2 separate regions of the Homo sapiens genome follow, and region 1 is linked to region 2. The links come from fine-mapping of genetic effects on gene expression. Tissue or cell type: whole blood. Region 2 holds a variant in brackets; the other region holds the start of a gene. All regions are shown on one strand. Distances are from middle to middle.

The links. PIP is the estimated chance that this variant, and not a neighbour inherited with it, causes the effect.
Region 1: NEIL2 starts here. The variant in region 2 is fine-mapped to the expression of NEIL2 in whole blood (INTERVAL, PIP 0.90).

Annotation. Positions count from the first base shown.
Region 1 is chr8:11,767,646-11,771,645 of GRCh38, reverse strand. It overlaps NEIL2 (nei like DNA glycosylase 2), which reads right to left and starts at 1,936. Exons shown (of 5, transcript NM_145043.4): 1 at 1,311-1,936; 2 at 61-200. The coding sequence starts at 198. LOC124901888 (a long non-coding RNA gene) reads left to right here and starts at 196. Exons shown (of 2, transcript XR_007060824.1): 1 at 196-768; 2 at 1,238-2,844. RefSeq lists silencers at 1,546-1,675, 1,716-2,125 and an enhancer at 1,286-1,786.
Region 2 is chr8:11,795,376-11,800,538 of GRCh38, reverse strand. The region is part of intron 1 of LOC105379243 (a long non-coding RNA gene); the gene reads left to right. It also overlaps a transcript of FDFT1 not described here. Among named protein-coding and RNA genes, the nearest start is that of FDFT1, 4.8 kb to the left of the region's middle. RefSeq lists a silencer at 177-236 and enhancers at 1-524, 5,005-5,163. The variant C/T (reference allele first, on the strand shown) is at 3,252.

The sequences.
Region 1 (4,000 bases), 28 kb after region 2:
ATCCTAGGGGAGGCGCAGGATGGGCGACAGAGCCAACCCTTCAGAGGAGTATTACCTCACCTGGGTGTCCTGGAGCCACAGAGACTGCAGGCTGGCGGGCTGTAGCTTCTTACTGCTGCCCCCTGTCTTGACCACCTGCTGACCCACAAAGGGGGAGACCAAATGGTGAAATTTCCTCACCAACGGCCCTTCTGGCATCCCTGTGGGCAGAAATGGGCAAAAGAGGCCACCGACTTAGCTCATTTATCTCTAGCATCTTTAACAGGTGCCAAGCATCCTCCATGCCGCCATTTTTGCTGCCAACTAACTTTAAGAGCAAGCATGGCCAAAAAGGGAGTGTGGCTGGGAGGCGGTCAGATCATAGAGAAGAGCAGCTGTGGCAGGGTGTGGGAAACGTAGCAGGAAAGGCAGCCCCTCTTACCTTTCTTCATGCAGCAAACACTTATTAAGCACCAACAGTGTGCTAGGCAGCACATCATGGGCACCATCCACTTTATTCCTGAGCGGCACCTGCCACACCAGGAGCTGGCCTTTGTTACTTTTTGCCTGGACTGTGAACCTCTAACACCTCCTGACTTTCTCTGTCCCCCTGCTCCCGCTCTCAAAAAACAGCCATTCTGACCCACTGCTGCCGACTTATTTCCCACTTTTGAAGGGACCAGATGCCGCCCTCCAGGACCGCCGACCACTAGCGTGGGGGAGGTGTGCATGAAACGACCAACACGCAGACAGAGCTCAGAATCATAAGTGAGACCCCCAGCCACGTAGGTAAGCCCGGCATAGCTACAGACAGTTATCTCTGATCCCCGAGAAACAGCTGTGGTTCTGTTCTAATCACCACGCAGGGCTCCCAGGGCCACCTCTACTCTCCCTGCCCCCAAATCATCCCAGTCCACTGACAGCCGCCTACATGAGGCAGTCTGAGTGGTGTACACCCGGGCTGTTCGGGCAGAGGAGACTCCCAGCCTCACCCGGGGCAGCTGCCTAACCACCTGTTCCTGCACCAGCCTCTCTATAAGTTATGATGAAAATCGAAAAGAACTAAGTAGATATCGGGCAGGGGGTAGCTATTATATTTCAGTGATTCTAAAAAACATTTTAGAATACTTTTAAAATCTAAGAAATGGTGACGGCTCACAATCTCGGCATTCTCATATTCGGCAGCAGCACATTCAATAACGCGCATCTTACACTCGCTGGTGCCGATTCGCTGAGATGTACTATTTCCCCTCATCAGGCTTTCCAGACACTCCCCAGGGAATCCTGACAAAACCGCCAGGCTGGAAGGAGACGTGCCAAACGCTGCTGACCTTAACCAGTTGGATGCCTGATCCTCTTCTACGGGGAAGCTTCTGGAAAAGCCTTCATCTGAAATGCACCAAGTCCTGAAAATCTCCGGACACGTGGGCATGTTTCGTTTAGGGATTTTTATGGAGATGGACAGGTGGGAAGCAAGCCGCCTCTGCAACAGCCTTGAAAGATGAGACGCGGAAGGGACTTCGAAGAGTCGCTGAAGATGCCGCGCCCACCCTCCGGCCCTCCCTGCCCGGGGGCTACCGAGGAGCTCGAGGCTGGCGCTGCGCCAGCCAGGGAAGAGGAGGGGTTGTCTCCGCCGTTCTCTTCCGAGTGCCCGAGGTGGGGGGTCTAAGACCACTGCTTTCCCAACTCTGCCTCGGGGTGCGGGGAGAGGGGCGCAGACGCGGGTCTGAGGGTCAGTGGGGGCCTCCAGGCGTGGGCAGCACCTCCGCAGGCGGCTGAGACGGAGGAGGGCCCGGGGCCCGCCCTCCCTTCCTGTCCCCTCCCGACTTCTCCGCCAGGCCGCAGATCTACCGGAGGGCGGGCGGCTGCACTCACCGGCTCCGGGTGGGTGGCACGTCGGCCCGACCCAGCACCGCTACGCAGCCCGCACAGCCGCTCCAGCTGGGGGCGGAGATTTCCCGGCTCGGCGGCCCATGCGGCCTCCGTCCCCTTAGGGGACGCCCCTGTAGGTGGAGGCTGCGGGGCTCCTCCCCCAAGTGGGCGTGGACTCCGGCCTGGAGGGGGTGGCGGGGTGCGCGCAGGCGCAGGGCTCATTCCCTGGAAAGTGGGTCTAGGTCGAGGCTGCTCTTTTGTGGGTGGGCGAGGGGTTCCATCCCGGGGGTCGCTGGAGGCAGGGCTGCATTAGAGGGTCGCGAGTGAAAGCAGGGATGGAAGAAGGGTGCAGGCTGGGACTAACATTGGAGAGACGCTCTTGGAAACTTTTTTTTTTTGCGGGGGGAGATAGTCTCGCTGTGTCACCCAGGCTGGAGTGCAGTGGCGCGATCTCGGCTCACTGCAACCTCCGCCTCCTGGGCTTAAGCCATTCTCCTGCCTCAGCCTCCCGAGTAGCTGGGATTACTGGCGCCCGGCTAATTTTTGTATTTTTAGTAGAGACCGGGTTTCACCATGTTGGCCAGGCTGGTCTTGAACTCCTGATCTCAGGTGAGCCGCCCTCCTCGGCCTCCCAAAGTGGTGGGATTACAGGCGTGAGCCACCGCACCCGGCCCTTTTGGAACATTTCTTGTCTCAAGGAGACAGTTATAGGGAAAAGTCAATGGGTGTGTGAATGGGACAGCCTGGGTGTTCCCACAATGGCAAGCCTTTCTGTGGGTTCTGCTTGGCCTCCGAGCCTAATGAAGTCGGGTGCAAAGGAAACAGGTGTTCAAGACTCGTGAAATGTTGAACGGGTGGGATTTTTTTGCTTTCTATTATTTGAATTTTATTACTTGAATTTTTACTATAAGCAAATTTTGCTTAAAGTATTTGTGTATTAAATTTTTTATTTCATAGAATAAAAGAGATAAAACAATAGGCTGTTTAAAGATACATATGTTTTCTTGTCTTTAGTTCTCGAAGGAGGATGGGGAGCCAGCACTTTCCAGGAAGTTGGGAGGAAAGTCTGGGGAACTCCCCAGCAGGTGTTCAGGAAATAGGCTGGGGTGAAGTCACCATGGACCCTAGCTGAGGGGTCCCTGGGGAAGGACTTGGTCAGCACAGGGAAACAAGCCCAGCCCACCGTCAGAGACATGGTTGTGTCCTACTGATTGAGAGGGAGGTTACAAGTGGCCTTCCCACAGTGGTCACCTACTGAACAGGCTAGGGCAGGAGGTGAGGAGAGGGAGGCCTGGGGAGGCCTAGGGTATAGGGTCCTCATCTAGAAAGGCATCTGGAGGCAGAGGGGATGAGGTTGGAGGGCATGGGGTTTGCAGGAGGCATCCCTTGAAGAGCCTCTGGTCCCCCTCTTTCTATGTCCGGCCTTTTCTGGAGAATAACGACCCCCCCACCCCCAGGATGCCCCTGCTATAGGATCAGGCTCACCACAATGGTAGCTTCTGGGCCCCCTAGTTTCTCTTTCTGTAGAGTGGCTGAGCCGGGAGGGAAGCCGTAGCCACAGTCCTCGCCTTACCTGGTGGAATGAATGCCTGGTGCCTAAAGGGGTTCTTCTGAGGCTAAGGGGCTATGCAATTGAAAATCTCATGGTTCACAGCTTGGCTCTGTCATTGATTGTTATTGTTTATTGAGCGCGTACTATGTGCAAAACACTGTTGTGAGCTCTTTGCATATATTGCTTCATTATTAGTTGTGGGGATACAAGCAAGTCACAGTATCTCTGACTTCATTCATTAAATGGGATATCTATTAAATGGTATTATAGAAATATCACAAAGCCACGCTTCTCAAACTTCAATGTACCTATGAATCCCCTGGGAACCTTGTTTAAATGCAGATTCTAAGGTCTATACCAGGGCCCAAGATGTTGCCTTTCCAGCAAGCTGCTGGGTGACGCTGATGCTGTGGTCTAGGGGCCACATTTTTGTTTTGTTTTGTTTTCCGTGACATAGTTTCACTCTTGTTGCCCAGGCTGGAGTGCAACCCAGGCACGATCCCAGCTAACTGCAACCTCTGCCTCCTGGGTTCAAGGGATTCTCCCGCCTCAGCCTCCCAAGTACCTGGGATTACAGGCACGCACAAGCATGCCCAG
Region 2 (5,163 bases):
CTTTGTTCTCCTCTACCTTTGCCTCTTTTAAAAACTTCTAAGTTGCTAGCCAATCGGGACAAATACAGAACGTGAGGCACCGTTCCAGCCAATGGAAACTAGACACAAGCAGTGGGGTGGACGAGTCAGGTTATAAATGACCCTGTCTCCTTTGTTTGGTATACTCCCATGGCAAAACTGCTGGCGAGTGTACCCTTTCTGCAGGAAGTAAAAATGGCCTGCTTAGTAAATTAATGTTCAAGCGCCTTTTTTTTTTTTTTTTTTTTTTTTTTTTTTTTGAGACAGAATTTCACTCTTGTTGCCAGGCTGGAGTGCAGTGGCACAGTCTCGGTTCACTGCCACCTCTGCCTTCTGGGTTCAAGTGCTTCTCCTGCCTCAGCCTCCCGAGTAGCTGGGATTACAGGCGCCCAACCACCACGCCTGGGTAATTTTTCGATTTTTAGTAGAGACAGGGTTTCACCATGTTGGCCAGACTGGTCTTGAACTCCTGACCTCATGATCCACCCTCCTCGGCCTCCCAAAGTGCTAGGATTACAGGCAAGCCACTGCGCCCAGCCTTCGAGTGCTATTTCTTCTTCATTTTTTTTTTTTTTTTAAATGGAGTCTCACTCTGTCGTGAGGCTGGAGTGCAGTGGCGCGATCTTGGTTCACTGCAACCTCTGGCTCCCAGGTTCAAGTGAGTCTCCTGCCTTAGCCTCCCGAGTAGCTGGAACTACAGGCATGTACCACCACGGCCAGCTAATTTTTTTATTTTTAGTTGAGACAGGGTTTCACCATGTTGGTTAGGATGGTCTCAATCTCTTGACCTCGTGATCCGCCCGCCTCAGCCTCCCCAGGTACTGGGATTACAGGCGTGAGCCACGGCTCCCAGCCTACAAGTGCTATTTCTTTCCAGCACCAGGGAAAAAGCATTTCAAATAACGGGACAGGAGATCAGATAGCCCTCATTGTACCCCCTTCCTTTTGGAGTTCATACACAACTGGCTGGCATTAACATTAAAACAGAGATCATAAGACTAACGGAACAGACTCTGTGGCAATAAGATACCCAATTATAAACAGGACCTAAGGCCATGCAGGCAATGGTGAAGTCAGGCACCCCTACACTTGAAGAATCAACTAAGCTCTAACTGCCACAGGGCTCTTCTTTTTCTCCAGCAGCTAAACGCTGGCCTTGAGATAAGCAATAGTAAAACACCTGCAGCTCCACCAGACAGTGACTAATTGAACCCCTGTTCCACCAGCCATAACTACAGCTTTGACTGGTCAAGAGATTGATCTCAGTAACTTTCTCCTGATAAGACCGCCGACCGTGGACTGGTCTGGCCAGTTTACAGAAACTGTACACTCAAGGCGCCTTCCTGTCCTAAAAAGACCTTTTGACCTATAGGGTGTAATTGTAATGCATTCACATGTTGAGTCTCTATCCCAAAGTGAATATGGGTCATATATTACATACATGTTTGTTCAATGTGTCAGGTCCGCCATCATAAATATTCGTAGCTCCTCTTGTAATCTGTTAAATATGTACGTTTAGCCAACCCAGTCAGCATAAAGCTCCTACCTCAAACGCCTTTTCCTTCAAAGTGCCCGTCTGTGGTCTAAGCTGGAAGCATGCTGTAACCCTTTAGAAGAAATAAAGGCTCTTCTCCCTTTCTAAATTGATAAATCATATTTTTTAAGTCAACACTAGAAATCTAAGCTCAGTGACGACACACCTTTGTTTTGCTCACTAATGTCCCCTCAACCATCTGGAATAGTGCCCAGCACATACTGGCTCAATGAATATTTATTGGGTGCTCAATGAGTATTTATTGAATTGAGCTGCGTATAGGACACGATGGTGCCTAAACAATGCAAAGTTAGTTAACGTGCCCATTCTTTAAATCTCTCTTCCATTAAATCTGCTTCTCCTGTGGATAGCGTTAACAGCCTCTCAGTTTTGTAATCACAAAATCCAGGTGTCATTGATAACGCCCTTTCTCTCCTTATATCCACCCCTTCAAAATCATTCATCAAGTCCTGTGGAGTCCAAGAAAACAAATACCTTTCATTTTAATCTCTCCTCTCTGCTCCATCTTGGTTTAAGCCACATCTTCTTTCCCAAACCATGTTGAAGTTGACTTCCCCTGTCCTTTCCCATATGGCAGGTAGAGTTATTCGTCTAAAACACACACTGGGCTGGGTGCAGTGGCTCACACCTGTAATCCCAGCACTTGGGAAGACCAATGCAGGCGGATCACTTGAGGTCAGGACTTTGAGACCAGCCTGGCTAACATGGTGAAACCCCGTCTCTACTAAAAATACCAAAATTAGCTGAGCGTGGTTGTGGGTGCCTGTAATCCCAGTTACTCGGGAGGCTGAGGCTGGAGAATCGCTTGAACCCACGAGCCGAGATCACCACACCACACTGCAGCCTGGGCAACAAAGTGAGACTCCGTCTCAAAAAAATAAAAAATAAAAACACACACTTGATTATAATCCTTCCATTTTAAATTCCTCCAATGAAATGTCTTCGAATCAATGGATTGATTTAAAGGAAATCAAGCCTTCTGGCATAGAATAAAAACGTCCTTGCCATTTGGCATCTACATCCTTTGTTGGGATTTCAGCCTCCTGTCCACCCATTCTTGTACTACTTTCACACCCTGATCCAGTCCTAGCAGCACTTATTGTCCCCCGAACAGGCTACAGTACTTCACATCCGGCCTTGGCCCAAGCAATTCACCTGCCTGGAATAGGCTTCCTGCTCCTTGCCTAGCCACCTGCCACGCCTCCATTACAGCTCAGGTGGAATCTGCTTCAGGAATCCTTTTCTGGTGTTTCCTGGCCTCTCCTTTATCTGTTCCCCTCCCCCACCGTTTTTTTTGTTTGTTTCTTTTTTTTTTTTTTTTTTTTTTGAGTGTGTGTGAGAGACAGACAGGGTCTTATGTTGTCCAGGCTGGCTCAAACTCCTAGGATTAAGGATCTTCCCATCTCAGCTTCCCTAGTAGCTGTGATTATCTGTTCTTTAAATGCAACAAACATTGGCTGAACATCTACAATGTGGCAGGAGACATGGGAAAAAACAAAGATGAGTAAGATAAGGTTCCACACCCAAGGAGCTTACAATGCAGAGGAAGAAACAGACATGTTATGTGATGGTGCTATTTGTTAGAGAGCCCCTAATCCAGCTCCCTCAGTCTGACTTAGGTGTCCACTTGGAAGCTGAACATACGAATGGATAACAGCCAGACACTATATAACAGAAC[C/T]ATGGCTTAAACAACCGCTGCTGCAGGCAGTCCAAGGAACTCAAAATGAGATAGAAGGCGAGATTCGACTCCAGAGGTGGGGTTCAGACAGCCGACCAAATTGAGGACTAGCTAAAACAGGGAGGGGCCGAAGCAGCCGTCCTTAAGACACGCCCACCAGTTTGCCATGTCAGTTTACCATTGCCATCGCAACACCCAGGATTTACCACCCCTTTCCATGGCAATGACCCAACAACCCAGAAGTTACTACCCTTTTCCTACAGATGTCTTCAGAAACTGTCCTTTAATCTGCGTGCAATTAAAAGTAGATATAGATCTGACTGCACAACTGCCCTGAGCTGCTTTCAGCACACTGCCTGCGGAGCAGCCCTACTCTGCAGGAAAAGTCACGGAGCTGTCACACTGCCTCTTTAATGAAGTTGTTTTCTTCCACCTTACCACTGGCTCACCCTTGAATTCTTTCCTGGGTAAAGCCAGGAACCCTCATGGGCTAAGGCCCAATTTGGGGCTTGCCTGTCCTGCAAGAAAACCACAACCTCAGCAGCAATCAGCCCCAAATGGTCAGGACTCTTGCAACTCAGAATCAACCACAGAAAAACAAATAGGCTCCTCAAACCAATCACTGAAGACACCTACCTCTATCAGCTGCTTCCAACTTCCCCAGGCCAGAAGCCTCCAATCAGAGCACTGCTGCAGCCTTCCCCTTTTCCACCGTAAAGCTTCCCACTCCCCTGCCTGCCTCGGAGTGTCCACTAAGTACAAAACTCCCTTACTACAGCAAGCTCCGAATCAAGAACCTTATTTGTTTGTGTTCATTGGGCTGATCTTTACTTTCACAGACCTCAGTACTTCTACCATGTTCAGTGGTTCCTCCCAACCTGAACTTTCTGTATTCTAATAATCTCTTGTCTGTTTCGCCACCTCACAGTGGCCCCCTCAAGCACAAGGGCTGGGCCTACACAGTATCTGGCGGAGTGTTTACAGCGTAATCAGATCAGTCCTAGAAAGCTCAGAACACAAACAGTCCAGTCACTTAACCCCCATCCTCACACAGCACTTTTTCCATTAACAGAAACACTTTACATACTCCCATTACAGTAGGATTTGGCTTTGTATTTTGTTTAGCCTTGTATTGCCAAATCCTAGCATTTAGGAGGCATTTAAGAAATATTTATGAAATGTCTAAAGCCACTGTGAAAATCTATGTTAAATCCCCCGTTTTTCACAATGTCAGTTATCACAAAACCCCAACTCATGAACTAAACCAATCTTTCACCTTAGAGTCTGTCGAGTCCAAGTGTGTCCGGAATTGGTTGGTTCTTGGTCTCACTGACTTCAGGAATGAAACCGCCCACCCTCGCGGTGAGTGTTACAGTTCTTAAAGGCGGCGTGTCCGGAGTCTGTTCCTTCTGATGTTCAGATGTGTTCGGAGTTTCTTCCTTCTGGTGGGTTCGTGGTCTCGCTGGCTCAGGAGTGAAGCTGCAGACCGTCACAGCGAGTATTACAGCTCTTAAGTCGGCGCGTCTGGAGTTGTTTGTTTCTCCCAGTGGGTTCGTTGTCTTACTGGCTTCAGGAGTGAAGCTGCAAACCTACCCTGTGAGTGTTACAGCTCATAAAGGCAGTGCAGACCGAAACAGACAAGTATTAAAATTTATTGCAAACAACAAAGCTTCCCAAGCGTTGTAAAGCAAACCCAGCGTGTTGCCACCGTTTTTTTTAAGGCAGCCCGCTTTTATGCTCTTATCTGGCCCCACCCACACCCTGCTGATTGGTCCATTTTACAGAAAGCCGATTGGTCTGTTTTACAGAGAGCTGATTTGTCCGTTTTGACAGGGTGCTGATTGGTGCGGTTACAATCCCTGAGCTAGACATAAAAGGTCTCCACCTCCCCACTAGATTAGCTAGATACAGA